Homo sapiens: one gene and its partners. Changing the gene in region 1 together with any one later gene gives a genetic interaction. Each region holds a gene or a part of one and is shown on either strand. Other genes may lie near its edges. The genes, in order: SLC30A5, SEC23B, TRAPPC10, MAN2A1 and TRAPPC13.

Region 1 (3,923 bases):
TGTTGTGTAAAGTAGCCTGTATGACCATTTATATCACCTCTTTTATTTGACAGATACAGAAAATTGAAGGATTAATATCATACCGAGACCCTCATTTTTGGCGTCATTCTGCTAGTATTGTGGCAGGAACAATTCATATACAGGTGACATCTGATGTGCTAGAACAAAGAATAGTACAGCAGGTAATCTTTTGTTTTTAAAGTAATTTTAATTGAGGTCATTCATACCCAAAATTGTACACCTCATAAGTTATATGGCTCAGTAGTCATTTACTATTCAGAAATATCAATCTTCCAACTCTTTTTTTTTTTTTTTTTTTGAGACAGGGTCTCACTCTGTTGCCCAGGCTGGAGTGCAGTGGCGTGATCTCGGCCCACTGCAACCTCCGCCTCCTGGGTTCAAGCAGTCTCCCTGCCTCAGCCTCCCAAGTCGCTGGGATTATAGGCACCCGTCACCATGCCCGCCTATTTTTGTTTGTTTGTTTGTATTTTTAGTAGAGATGGGGTTTCGCCATGTTGGCCAGTCTAGTCTCAAACTCCTGACCTCAGGTGATCCGCCTGCCTCGACCTCCCAAAGTGCTGGGTTTATAGGCAAGCCATCATGCCCGGCCTAATCTTCCAAATCTGTAACGGTAATATAGCTTACTTTTTACATCTAGATTTGTTTTATATCTAAAAATTGCTAAAATAAATGAAGTTTTGTGTTTAGAGGATAAGCTTTAATTAATATAAAAAAATTCATTTATGAGTTTGATTAATCTTGGTTTCCAGTAGATTATCAAAAAATAAGTTATTATAAATATATTCCTAAATTAGTAATAATCAACTTGGCAGGGTATATGCTATGTTTGGAGATAGAGGTCAGAATAGTTACTAAAGCCCTGTTCTAGATGTGCCAAATTGGAAACAATGGCTGTTTTCCTTTTCTACTGTGAATGTCAAATCAGTAATTTACTGACCTAAAAGAGTCTAATATTTTAACTAACTAAATGATGAATATTACTTCGAAGATTTATCTTGGACTACTGTAACTGTTTGTTTGTTTGTTTACTCATTCATTTTAGAGACAAGATCTCACTATGTTGCCCAGGCTGGTCTCAAACTCCTGGGCTCAAGCGATCCTCCTGCCTCAGCCTCCCTGGGCCACTGTGCCTGGCCTGTAACTATTTTAAAAATGTGACACAGGTTTAATATTCCTTATCTAAAATGCTTGGAACCAGAAGTGTTTTCGATTTGCGATTTTATTTTTTTTAATACTCGCATTACGCTTACCAGTTGAGCATCCCTAATCTGAAAATCCAAATCCAAAATGCTCCAATGAGCATTTCCTTTTAACACCATCTTGGCACTCAAAAAGTTTCAGATTTTAGAGCGTCTCAGATTTCGTATTTTCAGATTAAAGATACTCAACCCGTATCAACTATGTACAGCATATTAAGACGTGTGTACTAAATGCATTACTCTAAATGCTTCAAAATATCTGGATTTTTATAACAGGTTACAGGAATACTTAAAGATGCTGGAGTAAACAATTTAACAATTCAAGTGGAAAAGGAGGCATACTTTCAACATATGTCTGGCCTAAGTACTGGATTTCATGATGTTCTGGCTATGACAAAACAAATGGAATCCATGAAATACTGCAAAGATGGTACTTACATCATGTGAGATAACTCAAGAATTACCCCTGGAGAATAAACAATGAAGATTAAATGACTCAGTATTTGTAATATTGCCAGAAGGATAAAAATTACACATTAACTGTACAGAAACAGAGTTCCCTACTACTGGATCAAGGAATCTTTCTTGAAGGAAATTTAAATACAGAATGAAACATTAATGGTAAAAGTGGAGTAATTATTTAAATTATGTGTATAAAAGGAATCAAATTTTGAGTAAACATGATGTATTACATCATCTTCAAAAATAGATATGATGGATTCTAGTGAAGACCAAAATTACTTCTGTTTACTTTCTATCAGGAAGCATCTCCATTGTAAATATGTATTTACATGTTTATTACAAAGACCCAAATGAAAAATTTTTAGTCCATTTTTTGCATAGCCTAAAGATAAAATAGGAATAAAAGTTCTATATTTATGGATTTTCTGTATATAAAACTGGTTTCTAATTATAACTTAAGTCCATTAAGTAAAATCTGTATTGCCACTTTAAATGTAAACTAAATTATTTGGGAGAAACTTCAACCACTGATATGAGATAAGCAATGAGAATAGGGAAGTGTATAACATCACAGTTTTTGATGTATTACAAAAATCAACCACTCTATAAAATAAATTTTTTTTACTTTTGGTAATATTTGCAAATGAATAATTAATTTATTAGGGTAAAGAACTTATACTAAGTTGTGTCCATGTTATTCATTTACTTACCATGTTCCTTTAAAGTAGAATATTTCCTTTCTTGTTATATATTTGACATTCCAAGCTGCTTATCAAGCTGGTATCCAAGCAGTGGTAAGCTTTCATCCTTTCTTAGCTCCATAACGTTGTGAAACAGCCAGTTAAGAGAATCGTAAATAATTGTCAACTCACAGTTGAATTCTCTGCCTATGTAGGTAACTTTTTTCTAATTTCTGGAACATATAGATATATAAGAAATATCAAAGAATAGGTAGTTATTTCAAAGTTTAATAAGTAAAACTTGTTCATAAACATTTGAGCACCATGAAATCAAAATACCCTATAACTACTTTCTATAGTCATATCTAATTTATATTTTTTTCATTTCCAGTTGTAACTAGATATGTAGTAAAGTCTGAAAAGACTTTACCATAGACAATAACATGCAGTTTTATCAGCACCAAAGAATGTTGTCCAAAAGAAACTTTTTAATACCTGTCTTTCTATTTATAACATCTGAATATTTTCATTCTTATATTAAGAATTTTGATAAGTAGATTGAATTTAGTATGAGTACTATTTTCTTATATATACCACAATGGCAAACATGTATTATAAATCATATTTTTGTCTTACCAATTTTAATATATGAGGGGTTTTAGAAATTTGTTGTAAGTTATTTTTATATTCCTTGTCTTTTGCATATTTTTTGGCCAAAATCTTCAATACATATTAAAATTTTTGAGTGGTGGGAAAATAATTGCATATTGATGTTTTAATGCAATTTTTATACATTAAAAAATTAAGTAGATAGGTGCAATAAATATTACACCAAAGTTAAAATTGTCATTTCCCTTAGAAGACATATAAACAGCAAAAAAATTAATGTGATTGTGAGATATTAGAGTGAGAGAGAGCAGGGGCTGAAGGTTGGGGAGGTACAATTATAAAGTATGGAAACTCTAATATTGAAAGCACCAGGGTACTGTATTTCAGCTCATGCAAATCATGCAACTAGGCCAGGTGCAGTGTCTCTTGCCTGAAATCCTGGCACTTTGGGAGGCTAAAGCAAAAGGATAGCTTGAGCCCAGGAGTTTGAGAACAGCCTGAGCAACATAGCAAGATTCCATCTCTACAAAAATTTTTAAAAATTAGCTGGGGCATGGTGGCACATACCTCTTGGGAGGCTGAGGCAGGAGGATTGCTTGAACCTAGGAGGCCAAGGCTGCAGTGAGCCATGATGGCACCACTGCTCTCCAGCCTGGGTGACACAGAAAGATTTTATCTCAAAAAAAAAAAAAAAATTCATGCAACTTTAGGCAAATCAGCCTTTCTGAGGTATCTTTTTTTTTTCCTCATATATAAACTATATAAAACCTGCTCAAATTTACAGCACAGGATATGGGAACAAAAGGTATAATGTATGTGAAAATGCAGTGGAAGTTGAAAAAGGCTAAATAGGCCGGGTGCGGTGGCTCACGCCTGTAATCCCAGCACTTTGGGAGGCCGAGGTGGGCGGATCACGAGGTCAGGAGATCGAGACCATCCTGGCTAACATGGT
Region 2 (4,145 bases), on another chromosome or scaffold:
GGGAAGGTGAGAGCAATGTCACTGTCTTTATCCTTAGAACCCCTCACTTGCACAAGAAGGTGCTCAATAAACAAGTGAATGAACAGGATCAGGGGTTGCAAAAGAAATGTCGATAAGGAGATGAGCTTAAGGCAAAGAAAGCTTCATCCTTAGTACAGTCGGCCCTCGGTATCTGTGAGATTGGTTCCAAGACCACTCCTCCCAATACCAAATTCCATAGATACTCAAGTCCCTCATACAAAATGGCATAGTATTTCATATAACCGATGTACATCTTCCCATACACTTTAAATCATCTTTAGATTACTTATAATATCTAATACAATGTAGAAACTATATAAATCGTTCTTGTGCTGTTTTTTTGGTTTTGTTTTTTGAGACAGAGTCTCACTCTGTCGTCCAGGCTGGAGTGCACTGGCTCGATCTTAGCTCACTGAAACCTCCACTTCCTGAGTTCAAGCGATTCTCCTGCCTCAGCCTCCCGAGCAGCTGGGATTACAGGTGTCTGCCACCATGCCCAGCTAATTTTTGTATTTTTAGTAGAGACAGGGTTTCGCTATGTTGGCCAGACTGGTCTTGAACTCCTGACCTCAGATGATCCGCCCACCTCGGCCTCCCAACGTGCTGGGATTACAGGCATGAACTACCACACCCGGCCTGTGCTGTATATTTTATTTGTATTATTTTTTATTATTATTTCAAAATTATTTTTAACCTGCAGTTGATTGAATCTGCAGAGGTGGAACCCGTGGATACAGAGGGCCAACTGTACTGATACCAAAGGTTCCAGTGGGAAGAGCAGCTGGTCATCCGGCTCTCAGTCTAGGACTATTACTGACAGCCTAGCACTTGCGTGCAAGTGGCTAGCAGACTGGGTGTTAACATGCTGAAAAAAGTTTAAAGTTATAAAATACTTAGGAGTATTAGAAAACTAACACTTCCTAAGTTACTGAAGGAATCCTGAAACACAATTTATATCTTTTCACGACATCAGAAATCATTTCTAATGGTTGGCCATTAGGAAACCAAATCAATAACCAATTTAAGAAGGTAGAGATCATACAATAGAAGAAAAAGCATCACTGAATATAAATATCACCATCATCTTCATTAAAGGATTTTTTGCCATAAAGATGCAAATAATTCAGAGGAGCCATTCCCTTTCTCAGGGCATGAACCCCACTGAGAAAGAAATGGACTGAAAGCTATCCACAGCCATCCTAGGGATCCACAGACACAGCGTAAAGTTCCCTGGGCCATGTTATTTCATCAAAGTACAACCTTAGCTCTAAACACTAACTCTGAAAGAACAGCAGTATGTATATAACTCTGAAAGAACAGCAGTATGTATAAAATATTTACTGAGGAGAAAAAACTAGTTTTGCCTAACTTCGAAGGTAATAATTTACAGTGATTTAAAATAACCACCTGAGATTTTTTTACAGCATATATTATTATTATTATTATTTATTTTTTGAGATGGAGTTTCACTCTGTTGACCAGGCTGGAATGCAGTGGTGTGATCTCAGCTCACTACAACCTCAACCTCCCGGGTTTAAGTGATTCTCCCATCTCAGCCTCCCAAGTAGATGGGACTACAGGTGTGTGCCACCACGCCTGGCTAACTTTTGTATTTTTAGTAGAGATGGGGTTTTGCCATGTTGGTCAGGCTGGTTTTGAACTCCTGACCTCAGGTGATCTGCCCACCTCAGCATCCCAAAGTGCTGGGATTACAGGTATAAGCCACTGCACCTGGCCCATACTTAACAGCAAATATGATTAAAATTAATAAATATACAAATACTCCAGGGATTTACTAGAATAAAAGCCATGGTGCTTTCTAAGCCCAAACTGTGGTTACAAATGTCATTAAAAACCTAACTTAATAAATAAGAGAAGAAAACAAAAACCATAGTTAAGGACAATAATTCTCCTTGTGTGCACATTAAATGTGTATGCCTTTTCTCCAATTTAAAAACAAAAAGAAATTAATTAATTAATAATATCATCTTACCTCACCAAGATAAATGACAATTTGAAAGAAAGTATCCATCAGCAAAATTCTGTCAGCTAGAATGCTGCTGCTATCCAAGAGTACTGGCTGAAGAAAAAGAGAGAGAAAGATGGCATTGGTCTTCCCTGCTCCCCACACAGCAACCACTTCCACCCGACCCTGATCCCATGCCTGGTATCCACAGCAAAGGCTATTTACAAATGGTGCCCAGCACAGTAAGTCACCCCTTTTCTTCCTGACATACTTCCACTTTCTGCTTCTGACTCATTCTCAACTTTGTAGGAAAAATAGGCTCCAAATAATTCCTCATCAATTGAGAACGGAGATTAATGATACCTTTTTTTTTTTTAAGAGTCAGGGTGTTGCTCTGTTACCCAGCCTGGAGTAAAGTGATGTGACCCTGGCTCACTGCAGCTTCGACCTCCTGGGCTCAAGTGACCCTCCCACCTCAGCCTCCTGAGTAGCTGAGGCTACAGGTGCATGCCACCACGCCCAACTAATTTTTTATTTTTTGTAAAGACAGGGTCTCACACTATGTTGTCCAGGCTTAATGATATCTTTTGATCTTGGAACGAAAAATAATTCTGAATATTCTCAGTTTTGTATGTATTTTAGCAATCTCTACAGACATTCTCTGTAGATGAGACAGAATACGGATACCTATATGAAAAGCAGCATTTAATACAAGTTTTTAAAGTTTACTACAAAATATAAATTATGGCTGGGCGTAGTGGCTCATGCCTGTAAACCTAGAACTTTGGGAGGCCAAGGCAGGCAGATCACTTGAACCCAGGAGTTCAAAGCCAGCCTGGGCAACATGGCAAAACCCCATCTCTACCAAAAACACAAAAAATTAGCCGGGCTGTAGTGGCACGTGCCTGTGGTCCCAGCTATTCAGGAGGCTGAAGTGGGAGGATCACCTGAACCTGGAAGGCGGAGGTTGCAGTGAGCCAAGATCGCACAACTGTACTCCAACCTGGGTGACAGACACCCCATCTCAAAAAAAAATACGTTTATTATTTATTTGTAAGTAATATTTTATATTATATAAGTATATAATTTATATTTATATATACATATATAATCATATACATATATATTTATATACATAGTTCTTATATATACATATATAATTTATTATATTTACATATACACATATAATTTTTATATATGTAATTATTTCTTTTTTATTTTTATTTTTTGAGAGGGAGTCTTGCTCTGTTGCCCAGGCTGGAATGCAGTGGCGCGATCTCAACTCACTGCAGCCTCCGCCTCCGGGGTTCAAGTGATTCTCCAGCCTCAGCCTCCCAAGTAGCTGGGATTATTGGCGCCATTCCAAGCTAATTTTTGTATGTTTAGTAGAGATGGGGTTTCGCCACATTGGCCAGGCTGGTCTCAAACTCCTGATGTCATGTGATCCCCCTGCTATTTTAGTAATTATTTCAATAATAAAAGTAAGTGGTACTCGATAAAGAAAATTTTTAAATGTGTACCCAAGTACAACAAATATTGATATTTTGTTTTTTTCCATATAGTTCTTTATTTTTGCAGGGAATATTTAGAAACGTTTCTATTTTGACTTTTTTTCATGTAACATTTTTACATAAGGACTTATCTATTTTATTATGTTACATACTTTTTGTGAATACTGTTGGCCCTCCGTATCGGTGGGTTCCACATCTATAAATTCAACCAATCTTGGACTGAAAATATTTGAAAAAAATATGCATCTGTACTGTACATGTACAGACTTGTTTTCTTGTCATTATTCCCTAAACCATACAGTATGACAATTATTTACATGGTACTTACATTATATTAGGTATTATAACTAATCTAGAGATGATTTAAAGTATATAGGAGGATGTGCCAAGGTTACATGCAAATATTATGTAATTTTATATTAGTAACTTGAGTATCTAAGAATTCTGGTATCTGAGGGAGGTCCTGGAACCAATCTTCCATGAATACTGAGGGTCAACTGCATTTCTCAGGTTACTTATTTATTTTCCTATATTAAACATTCGGATTGTTATTTGATCCTCTATTATAGTAGTTCCTTTACTATTTTTTTTTTTGGCACAAAGTCTACTCTGTATCTAGGAGTCTTTCCTTCAGATACAAGACATGG
Region 3 (4,145 bases), on another chromosome or scaffold:
TCAGCTCGCAGCACCGAGCGCTCCCCGTGTGCTTTCCCTGAGCCAGCTGTCATTCTGCAGCAGAGACCCAGAGAATGTCAAGAACACAAGCACTCAAGAATGGAAATAACTCAAACGTCCTTCAGCTCGAGAGCGGTTAAACTGGCACATCTGATTCCTCCTCAGCAGTGAAACAGAAGGGACTGTTGACACACGCAGTGCTGTGGTTGGATCTCAAGGGCATTATACTAAGAGAAAAACGCCAGTCCTATAAGGAGGTGTACTGTGTGATTCCATTTCTAAATGACATCCTCAAAATGCCAGCCTCAGAAGGAGAGCGGGTCAGTGTTCCACGGAGCAGTGGGAGGCAGCAGGAGGCCGTCCTCTGTGGTAATGGAGAGTTCTGGGCCAGGGCCGCTGTGGTTGTTACACGAATCTACACATGTGACAAATGCCATAGAATTAGACCCAAAGAATGCCTGCGAAAGCTGCTGAAATCCAGTGGGGTCTGCAGCCTGGTTCACTCTGTAGTGAAATCCAGTGGGGTCTGCAGCCTGGTTCTATCTGTATTGAAATCCAGTGGGGTCTGCAGCCTGGTCCACTCTGTAGTGAAATCCAGTGTGGTCTGCAGCCTGGTTCTATCTGTATTGAAATCCAGTGGGGTCTGCAGCCTGGTCCACTCTGTAGTGAAATCCAGTGGGGTCTGCAGCCTGGTTCTAGCTGTATTGAAATCCAGTGGGGTCTGCAGCCTGGTCCACTCTGTAGTGAAATCCAGTGGGGTCTGCAGCCTGGTTCTATCTGTATTGAAATCCAGTGGGGTCTGCAGCCTGGTTCACTCTGTAGTGAAATCCAGTGGGGTCTGCAGCCTGGGTCACTGTATGGTACCAGTGTCAGCTTCCTGTGTTACACGAGATGGCACAGTTGGGTGAAGCTGGTGATGAAGGTATGTGACCCCTCTACTACTTTTACAACTTCTTGTGAGTCTATAAACATTTCACAATTAAAAAAAAGTCTACTCAGGAGCTGAATTTAATAAAATGAGCACTTTTGACTGCTTTGTGAAGCGTGGCATTTTTTTTTTTGTTTTTTTGCTGTGAGTTCATGGTAGTAAAGAACATGAGTGACATGACTGCGCAGTCTGGCCCGAGTTCATGCCATTGTGGTTGCCCCAGCAGCGCGAGGTCAGCAGCGTAGAAAGGCAGCAGTGTGAAAGCTATGAGCTTGCGGGTGCCCTGAGAGCCACACTCTGAGAACTGTCACTCCTTTGCCTTCCTCCTGACACTCCTAGGGCCTCTGCATGTCCTGTAGTAGCTCCTGTCCTCAAAGGTCCCCCATCCCCAACTACAGGATGTCCACCTCCCTGAGCCCTTCTCTGCTGCTCGTGGCCTTCTGGTCACTCACTCCCCCTGGGCGGTTGCTCGGTATCCTCATGATGGGAAGCTGTGACCTCTTTACCAGGTCTACTGCTACTGGATGGCAAGGATCCTGTCTTGCTTACTTTCATATCTCCAGGGCTAGTCCCAGTGAATGATCACTTAAGTGTTTGAATTGCATTGAATTACATGATGGTTGTGTTTTAATAATTAATGTTAATAATAACACCTGCCATATATTAAGACACTACCATGTCCCAGGAGTGGTACTAAGTGCTTTACATACAAGGGGTCTTCAAAAAAATCATGGAAGATACGTTATGAAAAAACTATGCATGGATTTCAACACTTTTTGCACCAAAATAAGCTCCTACTCACTGAGCAGGATCTAGTTTGAGGCACTAAGAAGGATAAGACATCAGTTTTAAAAGAGCCCCTATCAGAGCAACATGAATTCTGCTAAAATTAAATCAAGAACCAACATTGGCCGGGTGCAGTGGCTCACGCCTGTAATCCCAGCACTTTGGGGGGCTGAGGCAGGCGGATCACCTGAGGTCAGGAGTTCAAGATCAGCCTGGCTAATATGGCGAAACCCCATCTCTACTAAGAATACAAAAATTAGCTGGGCGTGGTGGCAGGCGCCTATAAGCCCAGCTACTTGGGAGGCTGAGGCAGGAGAATTGCCTGAACCCAGGAGGCGGAGGTTGCAGTGAGCCAAAATTGCGCCACTGCACTCCAGCCTGGGCAACGAGCAAAACTCCGCCTCAACAACAACAACAACAACAAAACAACCAACATCAAATTTATGGTGAAGCTTGGGTGGAAGAATGGTGAAATCATTGATGCTTTATGAAAAGTTTATGAAATTCTTTGGACAGTGCCCCAAAGAATTAGTAGTTTGCAAATGGATATCTTGTTTTAAGAAGGGACGAGATGATGCTGAAGATTAAGGCCATAGCAAGCAGACCATCCACATCCATTTTCAAGGAAAAAATTCACCTTGTTCATGCCCTAATTGGAGGGAACTGACAACAGCAGAAATGACAGCCAACACCGCAGACATCTGAACTGGTTCAGCTTATGCAATTACGCCTGAAGGGTGAGCAAGCGTTCCACTCAGTGGGTGCCAAAACCCTAGTACCCAGGTCCGTGGCCGACCAGAGCAGAGCTTCCCATGGAAACTTCAAACACACGGGATCAAGATCCTGAAGCATTTACTCAAAGAACCATAACAGGAGATGCAGTGTGGCCTTCCCAGTACCATCCTGAAGACAAAGCAGACACGGCAATGGCTACCAAGAGGTGGGGTGGCCCCACCAAAGCAGAAGCAGACTGGTCAAGAGCAGAGGCCACAGCAACAGGTTTTTGGGATACTCAAGGCATTTTGCTTGTTGACTTTCTGGAGAGTCAAAGGACAGCAGCGTCTGTGTATTATGAGATTGTTTTGAGGAAGATAGCAAGAGCTTTGGTAGAAAAACCCCTGGGGAAGCTTCACCAGAGAGTCCTCCTCCACCACGACAAAGCTCCTGCTCATTCCTCTAACAAGCCCAACTTCGTGAGGGTTTCTATGGGAAATCATGAGGCATCCACCTTGTGGACCTGATTCGGCTCCTTCTGACTGATTTTGGTTTCCTGATCTTAAGAAGTCTTTAAAAGGCACCCATTTTTATTCAGCTAATAATGTAGAGAAAGACTGCGTTGACATGGCTAAATTCTCAGGCCTCCCAGTTCTTCAGGGATGGACTAAATGGCATCGTAAGCAATGGCATCATTGCTTACAAACATGTCTTGACCTTGGTGGGGCTTATGTTGAGAAATAAAGCTTATATTTTCTGTTTTCATCTTTGGATTCCATTTTTGCATGAACTTTTTGTAGTTCCCTCATACGTATTCTCTTTCCATCCTTAAAAAGCAGCTCTGTGAGGCTGGTGGTGGTCTCAGCACTATACAGCGGTCATTGAGCCTGGAGGCCTTGGGGTGCTCTTCTGAGTGGCAGAGTTGGCTTCAGACCCAGTGGTCTTGGATACTGCCACTTACCAGACAGAACCCATTAACTGCCAAAGTCACCATACTGTGGAAGATGACACAAAAATTTGAAAACAAAATTAAATCATTTATTAACCTCACAGGAAAAATGCAGTTTTCTGTACACGTCCAGCATAATTCATTCTAATCCAGAACTAATTGAAATTGGACTCAATGAAATAGGGGTTGCCACCGTGAAAGTGCATGGCTTTATCTTCAGGCGCAGCTACAAGGCACTGGGCTCTGTGTCCGCAGTGTTTTGTCAGACAGCGTTGGGTGAGAGGATTGGGTAACGACGGCCGTGACTCTCGCCTGAGTACTGGAAGGCCCGTCCTGGATGACACATCGCTTCCTCTCGTTTCAGTTGTCGACAACAGTAGCAACTGGGCAGTGTGTGGGAAAAGCTGCGGTGTCATCTCCATGCCAGTGGCTGCTCGGGCCACTCACAGGGTCCACATGGAAGTGATGCCGCTCTTCGCCGGGTATCTCCCCCTGCCCGACGTCAGGCTGTTCAAGTACCTCCCCCATCATTCTGCACACTCCTCCCAACTGGACGCTGGTAAGGACTTTGGAAGAAAAAGTTTACCTTCAGTATTTGAGCAGGTGAGCACTTTGTGCGAGAGGTGATAAACTTATGACTGAGCAGGTTGGAGAACTAGCGGCGTGTTTTCAGTGCCGGTAGAAACTGGTACTAGAAGCCTCATCCGCTGTTAGAATCTTAGGCACCTGCTCTGAAAGCCAAGCCTCTGTGCACAGAGTGCTCTGTAA
Region 4 (4,145 bases), about 41 Mb from region 1:
TTTCAGTACCTGCTAAATAAAACAATCAAATTCTTCCATTTTAAAGGCCACTATCATTCCTTCATTGTTCATCTATTTTTACTGACAGATCAGTAACTAAAATAATTTGCAGCTAACAAGTAAAATAGAGATTTTAAAACCTAAAATCTAAGAAGCCCTAACCTATAAAATGGATAATAAGCATAAAAACAAATAAGAATCTGCCAATCAGAAGTATTCCTAATTTACCAACCTACAGAAATAGGAAGTCAATATTTGATAAAAAAAGAACTGTAAAGAAGTAATAGGAAGATAAACCCTATACTATTTAAATAAAAACTATTTAAAAAGAAATATCAAAAAGCAATCATTTTACTAATAGCCCCCGAAATTCCATTTATGTTTACCTGTAGTTAAAACTCCTCAATATGAAAGCTTAAAAATATTTTTCTCTTTCATTAATATACTACATTTCCTAACTTTCTTCTTCTGGCATTAGAAAGGCAAAATTATCAATTATTGTTTGCTAAGGCAAAGACAGTGAAGGAAGGAGATAAACTAAAGGGAACATCTTTTCTTCTGACCTATTATGGTTCCAGCCCTGCCTCACTGCACCCAGCATAAGAGCACCCAGAGATGGGGCACAAATCACTTATATCAGCATATATTATTCTTATAACCAGCAAAAACAAAGATCTTCCTCCACCAAAATATAAAAAGAAAGAAAAGTTAATAGATGAGAGAACTATGCCTAAAGCCAAATAGATTTACTAATGCCAGAGTTTACTAGGAACACAATATTTAAGGAACAGGCATATAACCCCAAATGCATCAAAACATAACTTATTTTAAGACAAAGAAAACATTTTGTAATTTTATAAGAAATATTTCTTTCAGTGTCATTATCCTTTCATCCTAACTATGACCTGGCAATCTGAAAGCTCCTAAGGCTTCTGCCGTGTTACAGAGAACATTAGTATTACTAAAATAAAAAAACTTATTATCTCGTTCTAAGGAATAAGCTGTATACACCTTATGTCTCTACTTACTAAAGAAATTTAGACAACTAAGACTTTAGTCTATGCTTAACAAAAAGTCTCAACTTTACTAGCAACTATAAATTCTTTTTACATTCATTCCATTTATTTTTAAATAATTTTAATAAAATATATTTAGTTGAAATAATGAATTACTCTTTGAAATTATTGTTTTATCCTATAATTGGCAAGAGGAGGTACTAAATATCTTGATTCTGACAGTTAAAGGTTATATTACAAAAAATAACCACTGTGTGCCTGGGTCAACTAGGAAATGACCAACAAATATTTGGTTATTAAAAACAGATACCTTGCTGTTTAAAGAAATACCAATAAAACATAATGCATTTCTTTATAATTATTAGGTAGCCACCAATTAAATGCCCTGGTTTAAGGTCACTGAACACCCTTCCCATTTACTTTAGCATAAATCAATAGTGCTAAAACAAGGCTGTTTCACCAGCAAAATGACAGTTATCTAATAAACAATTTACAGTAGAAACCTTGATCTTCCAATAATAATAAAGTTTCTTCTTTCATATAAAAATAGGATCAGGGATTAATGAAAACAAGGTAGTTAAATGAAAGGTTAATCAAGAAAGGATATAATCTGAAAATTTTATAGAGATAAGAAAATGTTTTATAAGCTATATATTTATCATGCTATACCTTATATCTGTGAGAAATATTGTTATAATAATTTATTCAGCAGTCAATATACTAAGCACTGTGTTAGCTATTGGCACTGAGCATAACACAGTCATGAAAGAAAATCCATTTTTTAGGAGTTTTTTAATTAATAAATTGATTGCCTCAAAATATACGCTAACTAAAAACCAGAACCATAAAACCAAAAACTATTAAGCCAGAAAGTGGTAAACATTTGTAAGAAATTATGAATTTACCTTGGCTCCGCACTCAGCCTTATTATATTTTTTTGTGGCAGAGAATCTTGTGATTTTTGTTTCAAATCCTATAAAAATGAACAGTAATTTTTTAATTTTACTTAACACTCCATGGACTCATCCTGAAACCAGAAGACCATTCAAATTCAAGTTTAGGAGGAACAGATTAAGGACTTATAAAAAGTTAAATATCAAGGGGTTTCTAATTAAAGCCAAGCAAAACAACTAGTTATAATGCCCCAGTTGCCTTACTAACATCTTAATAGTATTCTAAAACCCTACATATTTCACATACTTTGAAATATTTATAGAAAAGATGAACATACAGGTAATTTATATTAAGTGATAAAAATTCTTTCAAATAATGTACAAAAAATTATATTTCAATGTCTTTTTTCATTAAGCTTCTCATCCTCTTTGCTAATGCAAGAACAATGGAATTACACATTTTTATGATGACCATAGATGAAATTACTAACCATCTCCAGGAAGGTATCAGGAGAGTAAGAGTCGTATGTGAGTTTGTCCTTCAAAATAAGAAGAAATGCAGAATTTCCAATTATCTTCTCCAAAACCATTAACGAATGAAAAAGTCTGTAAATCAAAAATTTTATTAGTCTGAGAAACAATTTAAAAATCTGCATACAATATTTTCAGTTTCATTACTAATAGCCAAACCACCAGTATCTTCATCTTGTATTCAAAGTGAAACCTATAATGAATCTATGACAAACCTGCTCTTTTTTCCCCTAGAACTAAGTACATCAGAAGATATAACTGACAAGAATCCATTTAAAACCGAAAGCTTTCTGGACACACCTGAAACACATAAACATAATCAAACTATGTATACTTTCTATGAATATCGCACCAAATAATAATATCCAGTAGGATCACCCCAATAACTTTGAAGCATTCTATCAAAAAAACAATGATTTGCTACTTTAGAAAAAGCTCTAACAAGGGTTTTAACAATGAATAAAAACATGAGATAATTCAGCTCACAAGAAAATTCAATTCGTATACAAGTCATACCCCAAGAATTAAAATAGATGTTTTGTTTAATTTAGTTTCATGTTCTTGTTCAAGAGAACCAGAACAAGAGTTTTTGACAGATGTGAATAATGAAATTGTCTTTATCCCTGTTAAATTTTTTGGTCACTGAAATTACTAACTATATTCAAATTGTATTTTTATGTCTAAGGAATCAAAAGTCTACTGATTCCAGACCAATTCTGAAATACATCCGCTACTGCTGAAGCATTACTCATGGAAAAAGAACTTGCTTGAAGATTTTTTTTTTTTTTTCCTAATTCAGTTACGTTTCTTGAAGGCTCTACAGACCAGGCATCCATAGGCAAATTCATATTGGAGAAGTACGTAGAAACTCCTCGCTAATCACGTTTTCAATTATATTATTTTTTCCAATACAGAAAGCAACTTTGGATCTATGCCTTGAAGACATTTTTGTTGTCATGCAACAACAACAAGAAAACCTATAAAAGAAGTTAACTTCTTTTTTGCAGAGCATTAATATTTCCTTCAGAGATGTAAGTGATCATGATCAATGTTATTAATTAAATACATTTACATGGCAAATCTATAATTTTAATGCTAAAATCTTATGGATTTGAGTTCATGCCATAATCTAACTAAACTTCCCAACATATTCAAATGTTTTCCTAGACAGCATTAAGTGTTTTCACCATACTAAAACACCATACGAATATGGTTCAGTTATGACAGCAAGACCCTCAATCTAAGTTCCTTTCTATTGTCTACAGGGCTATCTTTATTAGGCAGCCTGAATCTGCAGAGTGAAAGTCATGTTCTCCACCACCTAAAACCAGATGTATTAAAGAGTCCTAATTAAACTGAGTGAAAGCCAGGATCAATGTCTGCATCCTAAAGGCACACATGCAGCCTTCTCATAAGATGAGTACTAAAGACTACAGTATATCACTCCCCAAATGTTTTCTCAGGATGTATAGAGCTGCTTTGCTTAAAACAAAACAAAATGAAACACAGTACATTTGGGAAACATTGGGTAAAACAAAATTCTAAACGTTTCAACATTTCATTAATACAGGATTTTTTTCAGGGCCTCTAATTTCCAAACATACACTTATCCTATTAATACGGAATACGGTTCGGGAAAAATCACTTGGGAATCACAGTTTCTTAGTTTGCTGTTATGGTTGTTGTATTAAGGAGATGTTAGCAT
Region 5 (4,145 bases), 3.5 Mb from region 1:
CCTGCCTCAGCTTCCCAGGTAGCTGGGATTACAAGCACACGCCACCACTCCTGGCTAATTTCTGTATTTTTAGTAGAGATGGTATTTCACCACGTTGGGCAGGATGGTCTCGAACTCCTGAACTCAAGTGATCCACCCGCCTTGGCCTCCCAAAGTGCTAGGATTACAGGCATGAGCCACTACGCCTGGCTGAGATCTGATGGTTTTAAAAATGGGAGTTTCCCCGCACAAGCTCTCTCTCTTTGCCTGCTGCCATCCACGTGAGACATGACTTGCTCCTCCTTGCCTTCCGCCATGATTGTCCCCAGCTACGTGGAACTATAAGTCCATTAAACCTCTTTCTTTGGTAAATTGCCCAGTCTTGGGTATGACTTTATCAGCAGCATGAAAATGGACTAATACAGCTACTATTCCTCTGTACCACCTTACGGACTCTTACCAAGTGAAATTTGTTCACTGTTAAAAGAACACATGTGTACCACTATGTCTCTGCCTCTGATTACCATGTCTCCCTTGCCTTGTTATCTGTATCCTCCCATTCTTTCAAGATCCTCTTCGCATTCCCTCTCCCCCAAGAAACCTTCCAGATTGACATAATCTCCAGTGATCTTTCATCTTCCATGTTAATGACATACATTAACAAATACTAAACTGCTATTTAGCTTTGACTAGTACATTTTCTCACCCAAGCAATCACAAATCTTGTGGAATAGGAAAAATGTTTTCATGCCTAACATAATACTTTATAACTGTAGGCATTCATTAGTGCTTGTTAATGACAATTAAAAATTATTGTATCAAACGTGCATTTAATGAAGTGCCAAAAACATAATAGATATAAAAAAACCTTTTTTTCTTTTTTTTTTTTTTGAGATGGAGTCTAACTCTGTCACCCAGGCTGGAGTGCAGTGGCGTGATCTTGGCTCACTGCAACCTTCACCTCCCGGGTTCAAGCCTTAGCCTCTCCTGCCTTAGCCTCCCGAGTAGCTGGGACTACAGGTGTGCACCACCACACCTGGCTAATTTTTGTATTTTTAGTAGAGATGGGGTTTCACCATGTTGGCCAGGCTGGTCTTGAACTCCTGACCTCAGGTGATCCACCTGCTTCAGCCTCCTAAAGTGCTAGGATTACAGGCATGAGCCACCATGCCCGGCCTAAAAAAAAACCTTTGTTAAAGACTAAAATACATCCCAAGTAAGAATGTTACTTACTTTTACTAATATGTCTTTTACAACTTGATTGCTATCATTATGAACGCTGATATAACTGGAAAAGGTCTCTCCCAAAAATATATTCCTGTAAAATAAAATAAGTATTTAGGCAGAAATCCATTCAGGTTTTTTTTCTTTTTTTTTTTTTTTGAGACAGAGTCTCGCTCTGTCACCCAGGCTGGAGTGCAGTGGCACGATCTAGGCTCACTGCAAACTCCGCCTCCCATGTTCACCCCATTCTCCTGCCTCAGCCTCCCGAGTAGCTGAGACTACAGGCACCCACCACCACGCCTAGCTAATTTTTTGTATTTTTAGTAGAGACGGGGTTTCACCATGTTAGCCATGATGGTCTCGATCTCCTGATCTCATGATCCGCCCGCCTCAGTCTCTCAAAGTGCTGGGATTACAGGCGTGAGCCACTGTGCCCATCAGGTTTTACATTAAATAATCTGTTTGAGAATCACTAAGAACTTCAAATGGAGAAACATTTACTGAAGGATAGAAATCTGGTGAAATACTGCTTCAACATTCCTTTGTTCACACTAGGCCACTCATTCATTACCTAGTGCAATTCAAAATACAGACGTAATCTATAGAACATGATATATCTTGGCCTTTGACTACTGTACAAAATGCCAACCTCACTAGAGATAAGACTCATTGAAATTAGACCTATGCTAAAGTCTTAGGATTTGTATCTGAATAGGTTAGAGAGAGCCAAGTTTCCATTCTTGAAATAACTTATTCCCTGAATCTAGAAGAGATCTAAGTTACTGATATTGGGGTATTTTTACCAATTTATTTTATTTCCTAGGTTACTTGAATAAAAATCACCAGTGGTTTTATTTTAGTTTTATACTTTTTACATGAATATATTTCCCAGTTTTTCAAGACACTAGTCAATGACCACATTCTGTAAAACTATAAAAACAATCTGTAAAATTTCTTTTTGTCTCAAATTCTGTCTGTTGCAAACAGAGTGGAACCAGGGGCTTCTACCTTATTATTAATCTAGAATAATAATACAGCTAAGGATAACAGAAGAAATAAATTTAGAGTTCCTAATTAGCTGACAAGTCTGATAACTCATTTTGGGAGAGGACTATGATGCAAAAAAACAAAGACTGGCTTCTGAAAAAGATGTTTACATTAGTAGTTAAAAGACTATGTGGCCATTACAAAATATAGTAAGATCTAAAGAAGAAAGTTAAAATTCTATTATGCTAGGAACCACTATTAACATTTTATTTTGGTATATATCTTTTTTTTTTAATAACAGAAAGCCATAATCACATAGTATGATTTTTTAATAATATTTTTGCCCCTCAAATGTATCATGTCCTAGGCGTGGTGGCTCATGCCTGCAATCCAAGCACTTTGGGAGGCTGAGGCGGGTGGATCACCTGATGTCAGGAGTTCAAGGTCAGCCTGGCTAACATAGCAAAACACGGTCTCCAATAAAAACACAAAAATTAGCCAGAGCGGTGCGCACGCCTGTAATCCCAGCTACTCGGAAGGCTGAGGCACGAGAATTGCTTGAACCCAGGAGGTGGAGGTTGCACTGAGCTCAAATGGCACCACTGTACTCCAGCCTGGGCAATAGAGCGAGACTCCATCTCAGAAAAAAAAAAAAAAAGGTAAATGTATCATGAGCATTTCCCCATCCCATGGTTCTGTTTTGAAAACATAATTTGTAATGGCTTTACAAGGTTTCTTATGTGAATATGTCATTCTTACCCAAAATTCTGTGGTAAAGTCAGCATTTCTCCCAACATTAAAACTTCTGCACCATTAACGGTTGAAGGATCATCTCTCATCAGCTGGTTAAAGAGATCTCCTGAATGAAGAGAAAAACATAAAATTCTAACATCTACCCTTTAAATAACTTTTACTTATATAAAGAAATAGCTGGGAGAGATATTTTAAAAAACAACCTCTTGACAAAGATGATATTTAAAAAGTCTAACTTCTAGATTTTAATACAACAAAGCATGTCAAAAAAATTCTGATCTCACAGGGAATGGAAACTTTAGAAACAAAGAAAAATGTACGTCATGAGATAGAAAATATACTAGAGAAAGCCCCAATAATTCTTAAAAAAAAAAGGGAATGCTAATACATACATTGATGCAACATTTGAGGATAAAGGCAATTTTAATAGTATTATGAATATGAATGTATCTTAAACTGTCTCATACTGCCATAGGATATCAACATAATTTGGACTTGTAGAGTATAAGTAAGGCCTGTTACTCAGATGGCCACCTTTCACATGATACAAAAATAGGCAACAAAGAATCCAGCAAATGGTTAGCATAAAATTTACAGGGCTAGGCTTAGTCCAAGGTAATGCAGGCAATTCAGGTTTCAACCTTTCCCTAGGTGCAAATAGAGGAAAGCATGTGCCATACCAGGTAAGTCTTTCTCTTCACATGTTACTGGGATATTGGTGAATAAAGTAGGCTTAGTCAGCCGCATCACTGTGAAGTAAAAAAGTAAAAGAAAACAAAACATTAATACTGCTTAGGGTTAATATTCTCAAGTCTAGTGTATGACATTCATCCATTTTATACTAACATAAAATATAACCTAAATACTTCCTAAATATAATACTACATACTTCCTAAGGTTATCACACATCAGTGATTTATTAAGAATTGTAATGTTACAAAATAAGCACCATTTATTTACAACCTATGAATTATAAAAATTAAATGTAAATACAATATGCATTCATTATAGAAAAACTGGAAAATATAATTTTTAAAGCTTAAAGAGTATTAGGAGCATAAGGCTTTAAAAAAATTCTAAGTGATTTCACCATAAACAATATCAACAAAATATTAACTTTGGAAACTCAGTAAGTGTTTTTTGTTTTTTTTTTGAGACAGGCTTACTCTGTCACCCAGGCTGGAGTGTAGTGGTGCGATCTC

The links.
Region 2: changes in SLC30A5 (region 1) and SEC23B together harm fitness less than expected from each alone (positive genetic interaction), as found in Homo sapiens cells (one large-scale study listed by BioGRID).
Region 3: changes in SLC30A5 (region 1) and TRAPPC10 together harm fitness more than expected from each alone (negative genetic interaction), as found in Homo sapiens cells (one large-scale study listed by BioGRID).
Region 4: changes in SLC30A5 (region 1) and MAN2A1 together harm fitness more than expected from each alone (negative genetic interaction), as found in Homo sapiens cells (one large-scale study listed by BioGRID).
Region 5: changes in SLC30A5 (region 1) and TRAPPC13 together harm fitness more than expected from each alone (negative genetic interaction), as found in Homo sapiens cells (one large-scale study listed by BioGRID).

The regions. Positions count from the first base shown.
Region 1 is NC_000005.10:69,127,951-69,131,873, forward strand, and holds the end of SLC30A5 (proton-coupled zinc antiporter SLC30A5), read left to right. Parts: intron 1-53; coding exon 54-182; intron 183-1,496; coding exon 1,497-1,667; 3' UTR 1,668-3,119; downstream 3,120-3,923. UniProt on the Homo sapiens protein: Together with SLC30A6 forms a functional proton-coupled zinc ion antiporter mediating zinc entry into the lumen of organelles along the secretory pathway.
Region 2 is NC_000020.11:18,549,045-18,553,189, reverse strand, and holds part of SEC23B (protein transport protein Sec23B), read right to left. Parts: intron 2,102-4,145; coding exon 2,015-2,101; intron 1-2,014. UniProt on the Homo sapiens protein: Component of the coat protein complex II (COPII) which promotes the formation of transport vesicles from the endoplasmic reticulum (ER).
Region 3 is NC_000021.9:44,099,037-44,103,181, forward strand, and holds part of TRAPPC10 (trafficking protein particle complex subunit 10), read left to right. Parts: exon of another isoform or gene 1-43; intron 44-60; coding exon of another isoform or gene 61-140; exon of another isoform or gene 141-1,030; intron 1,031-3,741; coding exon 3,742-3,936; intron 3,937-4,145. UniProt on the Homo sapiens protein: Specific subunit of the TRAPP (transport protein particle) II complex, a highly conserved vesicle tethering complex that functions in late Golgi trafficking as a membrane tether.
Region 4 is NC_000005.10:109,787,304-109,791,448, reverse strand, and holds part of MAN2A1 (alpha-mannosidase 2), read right to left. Parts: intron 2,516-4,145; coding exon 2,401-2,515; intron 1,990-2,400; coding exon 1,922-1,989; intron 1-1,921. UniProt on the Homo sapiens protein: Catalyzes the first committed step in the biosynthesis of complex N-glycans. It controls conversion of high mannose to complex N-glycans; the final hydrolytic step in the N-glycan maturation pathway.
Region 5 is NC_000005.10:65,634,848-65,638,992, reverse strand, and holds part of TRAPPC13 (trafficking protein particle complex subunit 13), read right to left. Parts: intron 3,693-4,145; coding exon 3,624-3,692; intron 3,050-3,623; coding exon 2,950-3,049; intron 1,298-2,949; coding exon 1,213-1,297; intron 1-1,212.